Linked DNA regions of Homo sapiens: region 1 is linked to region 2. Evidence: fine-mapped expression QTL. Tissue or cell type: whole blood. Region 2 holds a variant in brackets; the other region holds the start of a gene. All regions are shown on one strand. Distances are between the middles of the regions.

Region 1 (5,146 bases), 27 kb after region 2:
ACTTACTGCATTTATTGCTTACTGGCTGTCTCTCTCCCAACAAAAACAAACAAACAAAAAGGCTCTATGAAGGCAGGATTTTTGTCCACTTTGTTCACAGCGTATCCACGGTGCCTGGAACAGTGCCTGGCCATCAATAGGCACTCAGTCAGTATTTGTTGAATTAACAAAACTGCTTTGGGGCTCGTCCTCTTTGTGGCTCGTTCACAGCAAATTTAAACCCCAAACTGCTGAAGAAAATAAGAAAGAAAAGAAGGAACAGAAGAAAACAACCTCAAGAGACCTAAGACTTGGGGTAGAGGCCAGCCCTCCCTCTGATTTGCTGTGTGACCGTGGGCAGGTCCCACTCCCTTTCTGTGCTTCAGTCTCCCCTTCTGCAAAACGAGGACTGGATTGGGTGTTCTCTAAGGGCCCTCCCAACTCTAACAATGGACAGCTCCCTCCTGCCACTTCCCAGTAGAAGCTCAAACTAGTTCTAATCATGCGGTCAGCCAGAGAAATTGGGTTTATTAACACTGTGTGCAGGCAGTCATGTAGATGCGTCAGAACGTCGGACCTGGCCACATCATCATCTGCTGGTACAGAAGATAAATTTTGAGCCCAGAGAAGGTGGTCTGAATCCAGATCCCCACTGTAGGGCTTATGAGACCTTGGGGGTCTCACTCAATCTCTCTAAGTCTTTGTGGTCTCATCTACACATGGGCATCCTGATAGGACGCACTCCATAGGGATGTTGAGATGAGGCAGGATTTGAACTAAAGCCTGTTTGATCCCACAGCCTGACTCTGAATTAATGAGGCAAATTCTTTGCTTCAAAGCCAAAGCAAGCAAACAAAAAACAAACGCAAGATATCCAACCCACGAAACGCTCTATGTTCACGCCAGACTCCCATGCATGCACCCTTTGAGTGCTCCTTGTTGGGACCCATCCACCACCCCCCAGTTGCCTCATTAAAGGCAGAGCCTGGCACCAATGGCCCAGGTGCAACCACAGCTCTGAGGCCACATGGGCATCCCCCTGGCAGGCGTGGCCCACACCTGCACTGTCTGGTCTGACACCCAGAGGCCCTGGCAAGAGGCAGGTATCCTGGAGCATGCAGAGAACATCAACTTCCATGCCAGGAAGCTCATCTTCTCTTCCCAGCTCTGCCGCATTCTAGCTCTGGCACCTTGGGCAAGAGCTAGTCACTTTTACTCTCTGAGCCTCAATTTTCCTTCTGTAAAATGGGTTGTAATAATAAGCCCATATACACCTTGTATTGTAGCGAGATGTAGCTGTGATACAGTCTGGAAAGCACGTGTCATATAGACAGGCAGCTAATGAATCTCACACTCTGGAACTGGACACCTTTGGTTCCAATTCTGGCCCTACCACTCTCGAGCTGTGGAAGAACTGCACCTCTGTTTTCTCCTCTGTAAAATGGGTATAATAATGGCACCAACCTCAGAGGGCTGCTGTGAGGGTGAAATAAGGGGATAATGGTATGATCTAGTTCACGGGTTTGTCGTAATGAGCTATTCTATGTGAAGTGCAGGAAAACGTGCCTGGCATAGAGAATGTGAGCTGTCATGTGGGTGGCCCAGGTGGAGAGACTTGTCCCAAGCCTGGTTGGTCTTTGAACGTGTAGCCTGGCCTGTGACTGCTTACCTAAAATCTCCCCGCTTTTCCCACCTTCTCCTCTCTGATATGCCTGTTTGACATAGGTGAGATTGGATAGATCAAGGTGTTCAGGGCCTCTAGGCAGGGATGGGACTGTGGGCATGAGGACCAGGACCCAACCCCTCAGCCCCACTCTCCACCCCAGGCTTTCTGAGCCATCCATCCTTCCCAAGAAACTGACAGAGCCACCCTGCCACTGGTACCAGCATTGACACCCATCTAGAGGTCCGAGGGGCAGCCCCAGGGCAGAGGAGATTTTGAGAGCCCACACCCCTGACCTGAGTGGGGAGGGGTTGAGCCTCTGGGCCACAGACCGCAGGTGCTGACTCATGGCCTCTGCTGGGCGATATAAAGGAACCAGCCCAGGGGCTTCCTACAGCCAGAGGGACGAGCTAGCCCGACGATGGCCCAGGGGACATTGATCCGTGTGACCCCAGAGCAGCCCACCCATGCCGTGTGTGTGCTGGGCACCTTGACTCAGCTTGACATCTGCAGGTAAGAGGGGGGCCTTCTGGGGTTTTGGAGGCAGGTCAGGAGATGCTGGATGACCCAGTTCTACTGACACAGGAGCATGTGTTTGGCCCAGGCTCTAGGCTCCAGCCTCTGCAGCCACTGCCAGGGGAGTAGCTGGAGAGAGAAGACCCCAGCAGCCCTGGGAAGTGCCAGTCTCATGGCTGTGGGTTCTTTGCCATGTACAAGTGCAAATTCCCCAGGAACACACGACAGATAAATTATTATGGGGCAAACCAGGCCATCCATCTCCCTGTCTTCATCGAGGCAACAGAAGCTTACAGAGAGTCTGTGACTTGCTCAAGGTCACACAGCACGTGTGCCCTGGAAGTAAGGTTAGCCCCTGGGCCTCCTGGTTCACAGCACAGTTTGTTACCCCACATCTCTTAGCTAAGCCTCCCTCAGTGGGTGCATAATAGCGTGGGTGGGGATGGCGAAACGGGGCTCTGTGGCGGCAGAGACTGAGGTAGGAAGCCTGGACCTGCTGCTGGCTAGCAAGGAGGCCTTGGGCAACTGAGCCTCAGTTGCCTCATCTGTGAAATGGGGATAATACTCACATCATGGGCTGGTTATAGGAATTCAATGTGAAAAAATGTGCAGATGTTGGCTGAGTACTTAGCACAGTGGTGGGCCCATCCTTGGTAGTTTTTATTTACTCATTTAACAAATGCTGAGTGCCATGCTCTGTGGCAGGGTCTGGGTTAAACAAGAGAGTTGAGGAATGCTCTCGGGGAGTGTGCAGGGTCATTGTTGTTATTGTAGAACAGGAATTAAAAGAAATTTTAAAACGTGTAAGCAAAAACTCAGTTCTATGTTAAAAAAAAAAAAAACAATTTTCCCTGGAAAAAAAAAAAAAAAAGAGCTGGAGTCCCTTAAAAATTAACTGCCTGTTTTTTTGTGGCTAGTGAGCCTTATTGCTCCTCTTTTTCCAGGCATTGTAAAGACCCTGTTTCTCCAGCTGTGCAGCTGCAAGGTCACTAGACAGATAAACTCAAGCTGTAAAAATTTTTTTCCTTAAAAAGTAAAAAATAATATAATGCATGTCTCAATTAAATAACTGTCTTTGTTTCTTGCCTCTATAATATGCTTCCCCCTGCACAGATCTACCCCCGCCCCATGAAATGCTTAAAAGATAACTTAACTCTTTGTTCAGGGCTCAGTCTTTTGAAATGTTAGCCTGACTGAGCCAGTGAATCTAAATAATAAATCCTCCTCAACCCCTCGGTCTCTCTGATTCCTAAATTATCCTGCAACAATTGCTGTTGTCAGGAATAGGAGTGGTTGCCCCTGGCTTCCCCATCCCAGTCTGGGCATCGGTGGCCCTAGAATGGTGCCCACAGGAGTGCCGGGGACATTTCTTTGCTACTGCCTGAGCCCCAGCAGCCAGAGAACAGCAGGAAATGTCGGGATGGTCTCCCAGGGCCACATGGTGGAGGCAGGAGACCAAGAAGTTGGGGAGAAAAGGAAAAAGAAAATCACCTGACATCATCTGAGGCGCCCCCAACTCCTCTGAGAATGGGTGTGAAGGAAATGACAGGAGCTGAAGCTAGCCCAGGGCCTCTCCCAGCATGCCCAGGCTAGCCCTCTACCCAGCGTCCATGAGTAGTAATCAAGATCACAAGTGCTTCCTCTGGCCCTAGAGAGGTGGGTGGACAGCTGGTCAGTGTTGGGCAGAGAGGAAGGCACTGCCCATTTCTCCCAGAAAGGATGGGGACTCCGGAGTTCACAGGGGCCTCTAAATCCTTCTTTTCTCCTCCTTCAGCCACACGTTGAGCCTGTCACTCTATCCCCTGAACATCTCACGTAACAATGGCTAATATTTACATCACACTTCCTACATTCAACTCATTCAATGGCCTTGGGAGGCAGGTAATGTTGTTATTCCCATTTTACAAAAGAGGAAACAGAGGCTCCAAGAAGTTAAGTAACCCACCTCAAGCCACACAGCTAATAAGTAGGGGAGCCAGGACTCAACCCAGGCAGCCTGACTCTAGGACCCTCCATTCTCCCCATGGGTCTCCGTTCCAGACCTTCCTGTCACTTCTTATCTGTTCTTAACATAGCCCCAGACAGCGCCTCCCTCCCATCTCCTGAGCAGCCATCGGCCTCTTCCTGAACCACACAGGTGGGAGGGCCACTCCCTCCTCACCTCCGCCCCTCATATTCATGCCTCCATAACTTTGCTCAAGCCATTCTCTCTGTCCCCAAAGTCAGGAACCCGGGAGGCAGAGGTTGCAGTGAGCCAAGATTGGGCTAGTGCACTCCAGCCTGGGTGACAGAGTAAGACTCTGTCTCAAAAAAAAAGAGGCAAAAACACCTAACCGAGGGTCACATAAATTAAAGGTGGCAAGCTGGGCACGGTGGCTTATGCCTGTAATCCCAGCACTTTGAGAGGCCAAGATGGGCAAATCACTTGTGGTCAGAATTTCGAGACCAGCCTGGCCAACATGGGGAAACCCCGTCTCTACTAAAAATACAAAAAAATTAGACGGGGCGCAATGGCTCACATCTGTAATCCCAGCACTTTGGGAGGCCGAGGCAGGCGGATCACAAGGTCAGGAGATCGAGACCATCCTGGCTAACATGGTGAAACGCCGTCTCTACTAAAAATACAAAAATTAGCCGGGCGTGGTAGCACGCAGCTATAGTCCCAGCTACTTGGGAGGCTGAGGCAGGAGAATCGCTTGAACCCAGGAGGCGGACGCTGCAGTGAACCGAGATTGTGCCACTGAACTCCAGCCTGGGCAACACAGTGAGTCTCCGTCTCAAAAAAAAAAAAAAAAATTAGATGGGAGTAGTGGCACATGCCTGTAATCTCAACTACTCAGGAGGCTGAGGCACAAGAGTTGCTTGAACCTGGGAGGTGGAGGTTGCAGTGAGGCAAGATTGCACCACTGCACTCCAGCAAGGGCAACAGAGTGAGACTCTGTCTCAAAAAAAAAAAAGTTAAAGGTGGCAAAGCCAGGACTGTCTGAC
Region 2 (5,146 bases):
GACCCTGTTGCTCCCAAACGCACCCTAACTAGACTCCGGTGAACCTAGAGTAAGTCTTAGAAATCCTTAAATCCAAATTATGTACCAGGCAGGGAGAAATGCCACCTTCATCTTTCCTGGGAGAACTTATGGTGAGCAAGACCCAGGAATGGGTTGAGCAGAGTTATTCCAACCTGCCCAGCTGGGAGGGAGCGTGGGAGAATTCACAGATGGCAGGCCACAAGCAGCCACCCCACCCTCGAGGGCTGACACTCAGGCAGTGACTGTGGCGATTAATTACATAGACACAGAGGCCAGACACAGAGGCCAGAGCACTGATTAGACACCTCAGTGCGCCAGGCCTCACGCTGTGTGCATCACACGTGTTATCTCATTTGATCTCACGAGAGATCAAATGGGATGACTCTCACCCACCTTTATTCCCAAGAATGTGAGGCTCAGAGAGGGGATGTCACTGGCCCAGAGGCCTCAGCAAGATTGCAGTGGAGCTGGGACTGGACCCCAGCTTCCTGCCTTAAACTGGGGTGAAGCGGGCGTTAGACCTGCAGATGGGTCAGGGGAGCCCTCTCCTTTCCCTTGGTCAAGGCTTGAGGCCCTGTGCGAGCCCTGGGCTTGGGTTTGAATCACAAGCCCCCACATATCCTACCTGTGTGACCTTTGGCAAGTCTTCTGACCTCTCTGAGCCTCAGTTTTCTCATCTGTAAAGTGGGGATCATAATGCATACCTTGTGGGGGTCACCGTGAGGGTTAAATGAGATGCTGAACCTGGGCACTCCCCTCGGGGCCTGCTCATGGTAAGCGCTTACTAAGTAGCAGCCATGAGGATTGTGTGCCATTGACTCTAGCCTCCGCTTCCCTGTCCAGTCTCATCTGCATGGGCACACCATCAGGCTGAGAAAATCTGGACCCCTGGGAGGTCCCCATTTCACGCAGTCACCCCCTGAAGGGCAGGATTGGGGCTGGATGGTGTCTGAATCCCAGGACTGGCTGGTTCGCTGCTCAGTGAACCTATAAAACCTGACTGATGGTGGGTGGGTGGGCAGCAACTGACCCAGCTCCCCGCTAAGCCAAAGCAAGAGGATTCCTCATCCAGTGCCCTCGGGCAGTTGTACATTTCCAGTGACAGGCGTTACCACTTCCAGTGAACTCAAATAAAGGTCTCAGTTCATTCCACTGTGGCAACCAGACCCTCCCACTCCTTATACCCCAAGATGTGCACAGTGGCCAAGGCAAGCTCAGACAGGTGGAACCCACCCAAGGCCTGGGAAAGTCAGAGGCTGCTGACTCGGCAAGACCATTAGCTGTGAACTTGGCTCCTGCCTGTCTGCTTCCCTAAGCAGGTGGTCCTCACGTTGGTGCTGTCCCTGTCCTTCTCTTTCATCTCTCTCCTTCACAGATGATGAGCAGGTCAAGACCATCTCCATCAACCAGGTGCTCTCCAATAAAGACCTCATCAACTACAATAAGTTTGTGCAGGTACAAGGGCTGTGGTGTACCTGTGGGCTGTGATTTGGGAGTAGGCGGGGCTGGAGGCAAGGATGGGATACAGACATCTGAGGCTAACTGTTCATGAAAGCTCAGGTTAGAACAGGCCCAGACAGAGGGGTCCCAACACCCTCTTTTGACCCAGAAGAAGTGAGGGGAGCGACAGGATGCCTTGGTGCCCCCAAAACACACTGGCAAGGTGTCCCCAACTCTGGCCCTCCCCTGCCCCCAGAGCTGCATCGACTGGAACCGTGAGGTGCTGAAGCGGGAGCTGGGCCTGGCAGAGTGTGACATCATTGACATCCCACAGCTCTTCAAGACCGAGAGGAAAAAAGCAACGGCCTTCTTCCCTGACTTGGTGAGGGCACTACCCATGACTCCTTTGCCAAATCAGGCTGCAAACCTCTAAGCTCGAGAGAGGAAAAATGTCTGGTCACAGTCATATTTAGGATTGTGGTGGCCAGTGGGGGTGGCAGGGAGAATCAGGGGTCCTATGGTGCTCCTCAGAAGGGCTTCTAGCTGGCTGACCACCATGGTCCCTGTGGAATGCTTGCTGGCCAAGCCCTGGCCCAAGGGGCATCAGGGAAGGGGTCCACTTGACATTTGTGGAGTGAATGAATGATTGCATGAGGTCACGTGTGCAAAGCACATGGCATCAGCTGGGAACCCAGATGCTCATTCTGCTCTCTTCCTCCCAGCTTGTGGCTCTTCATCCATCCCACATGTATTTAGGGTGTCCTGTGGCAGATGCAGAGATGATTAAGAATGCCCCCTGCTCTCAAGGGACTTTCAGTCTAATCGGTTGAGAGGGAAACTCTTCCCTTCTCTGAGGACATGTCCCAGTGATCTATTTTGTAGGATAAGGCGATGTGGCAGTTTGGAGGTGAGACAAAGCACTTCCAGCCTAAGAGGTAGAACTGGAGATCCAGGAAGTCTTCATGGAAGAAGTGGCTTTTGACTGAGCCTTGAGGGCTTTGCCTCTGATGCTTGTAAATCTTTTTTTCTTTTTTTCTTTTTTTTTTTTTGAGACGGAGTCTCACTCTGTTGCCCAGGCTGGAGGGCAGTGGCACAATCTCACTCACTGCAACCTCAGCCTCCAGGGTTCAAGCGATTCTCCTGCCTCAGCCTCCTGAGTAGCTGGGATTGTGGGATTGCAGGCGTGCACCACCACGCCCGGCTAATTTCTGTATTTTTAGTAGAGATGGAGTTTTGCCATGTTGGCCAGGCTGGTCTTGAGCTCCTGACCTCCGGTGATCCACCAGCCTCGGCCTCCCAAAGTGCTGGGATTACAGGCGGAAGCCACCGTGCTTGGCCTGCTTCTAAATCTTGAGCTTGCCTTTGAAACACCTGGACAGGTGGGGCCCCACCCCAGCGGTCCTGATTCAGCAGGTCTAAAGCACGGCCCGAGGCACTGCTGCCGCGCTAACAAACACCCAGGTGGTGCTGATGCTGCCTTTTAGAGGAACACAGTTTGAGTAGCACTGCTATAGGTCACCCAGCTCCCCTCTCCACTCCTCCCCACCTCATCCCCTAAAAGAACTCAATTTGCCCATTGTCAGAGCCTTGTGGGGAACCTGTCCACACCACCATTGCTTCATGCCCCGCTTTTTC[C/G]TTCCTCTTTTCAGGCAACATTTTGCCCTCCGCTTGCAAAGCCTCTTTTCACTCCCCTTCCTTCCTGTTCGAGGCTATCTTGTAATTATATATGTGCCCCAAGAAGTTTGTGCAATGATTCAGGTTCTTGTGTTCGCAAGAGACAGAGTCCTACTGAAGCCAGCTTCAGCCAGAGGGAGTCTTAATATAAGGACACCAGAAACCTGAGGGCAGGATAGCTGCAGCAGAGCCTGGAACCCTCTCTGTTTCTGTGTCTACATCATTCATTCTCTCTCTTTCTCTCACCCTCTCCACCTCCTACTTCTTCTCCCTCTTCTTCCAGCTTGGCTTCCTTTGCTTCTCTGTTCCTGGGGACAAAGATGAGTATGGCCATGCACAGAGACACTGACACGGGCAGAGACCAACTAGACGCTCCCATTGTCAGTTTCAAATTCCTGGGAGAGGGACTCTGATTGGTCCATCTTGGACCAGCTGTTCTCCCTGGCCCAATCAGTTATGGCCTAGAAGGTTGGGATTCTGCAGCACAAACATGGCAGCTGCCACAATCCACAATTCCAAATTCACATTAGGGCAGTTTCCAGAGCACGTTGCCAGAGTGAGTTCTGCGGATGCTCCCAAAGGCACCTGGCTAACCGGTTCTTCCCAGCCCCTTTAGCCAGTTACCTTCTCATTGCACAGGAAAGGGTGAGTAGCTATTGACAAGGCTGTCTAAAACACAAACCTAGGTCCTGCAGGTAGAGTAGAGGTGTGGGGTGGGAGCCCAGTGATGAAGTGCTGCTTCCCCTTTGGACTGCAGGTGAACATGCTGGTGCTGGGGAAGCACCTGGGCATCCCCAAGCCCTTTGGGCCCATCATCAATGGCTGCTGCTGCCTGGAGGAGAAGGTGCGGTCCCTGCTGGAGCCGCTGGGCCTCCACTGCACCTTCATTGATGACTTCACTCCATACCACATGCTGCATGGGGAGGTGCACTGTGGCACCAATGTGTGCAGAAAGCCCTTCTCTTTCAAGTGGTGGAACATGGTGCCCTGAGACAGCTCCCACCCACCATCCTGTCCCCCTGGGGCGGGCATTGGCCCAGGTGGTGGAGACAGAGACAGGCCCCTGAACGATAAGCACCAAGAGACCCCAAGGCTCCAGATGGAACACTGAGGGTGACCGTCCCTCTCAGAAGCCTTTTCCCTGGAAGTGTCCATGCCTCACCTGCAACCCATGTGGTTCTCAGACTTGAATCTTCTCGGCCCCCCAAAAAGAAGGACCTCATTTCTTATAGCCTCTCCTGTGATTCAACACAACCCATGGAGATGTCCCCTTCTCACTCTGAAATCATCCATTTGGGGACAAATCCACATTGGGGTCTAGAAACATCCACGTATCTCATCAGCCATCTTGTCCTGTGCATCCTAACAGAGGAAGGATCCATGATTCTGCTTTGGTCCAATTGCTTCCTCTCTGCAGAGGAACAACCCTAAAACCAGACCACTCCACGCAGGACAGGCAGGAGAGATTCTTCCTAAAGCCTCCCCCATAAAAAGGGAGCTGTGGATCCACTTAGATCAGGGCGGAACCATCTTTCACCCGGCCAAGCTCCTGCCCAGATGTTGACCCTCACCCAGCGTGAGCTGTCACATAGTAGGAGCTTCTAGATGCATGTGGAAGCAATGAGAGTTGTCCCTTAGCCTTATAAACTCCCCATGATCTGACATGCAGAAATCCAGCCTTGTCCAGAATCCTCCTGGAATTTCTTGGAGACGAAAGTATCTGGGGGATTGTTGGGTACTAGGGAGACTGGGTACAAGGGTGAAAAGTAGTTCCCATAATACACATGGTTGACTATGGTGATCCACCTTGTGATGGTTAATATTAGGTGTCTGGAGAAGGTTGCTTCATTGGCCCTGGGACTTCTCTCTGCAGGAGGAGAGAACGCTGCCTCTCCTCTGGATTGGTCTCAGGCTCTCTGTTGGCCTTTGGTCAGCGTTTCCACATCCTGCTCTGCTGCAGGAGAGGGGGCTAAGGGGCTGGATCCACCAAGGCAGCTCACAGCGGGAAAAC

The links. PIP is the estimated chance that this variant, and not a neighbour inherited with it, causes the effect.
Region 1: PADI4 starts here. The variant in region 2 is fine-mapped to the expression of PADI4 in whole blood (INTERVAL, PIP above 0.99).

Annotation. Positions count from the first base shown.
Region 1 is chr1:17,306,160-17,311,305 of GRCh38, forward strand. It overlaps PADI4 (peptidyl arginine deiminase 4), which reads left to right and starts at 2,038. Exons shown (of 16, transcript NM_012387.3): 1 at 2,038-2,155. The coding sequence starts at 2,064.
Region 2 is chr1:17,278,954-17,284,099 of GRCh38, forward strand. PADI3 (peptidyl arginine deiminase 3) reads left to right here. Exons shown (of 16, transcript NM_016233.2): 14 at 1,397-1,476; 15 at 1,718-1,843; 16 at 3,893-5,146. The coding sequence ends at 4,126. Among named protein-coding and RNA genes, the nearest start is that of MIR3972, 3.6 kb to the left of the region's middle. The variant C/G (reference allele first, on the strand shown) is at 3,097.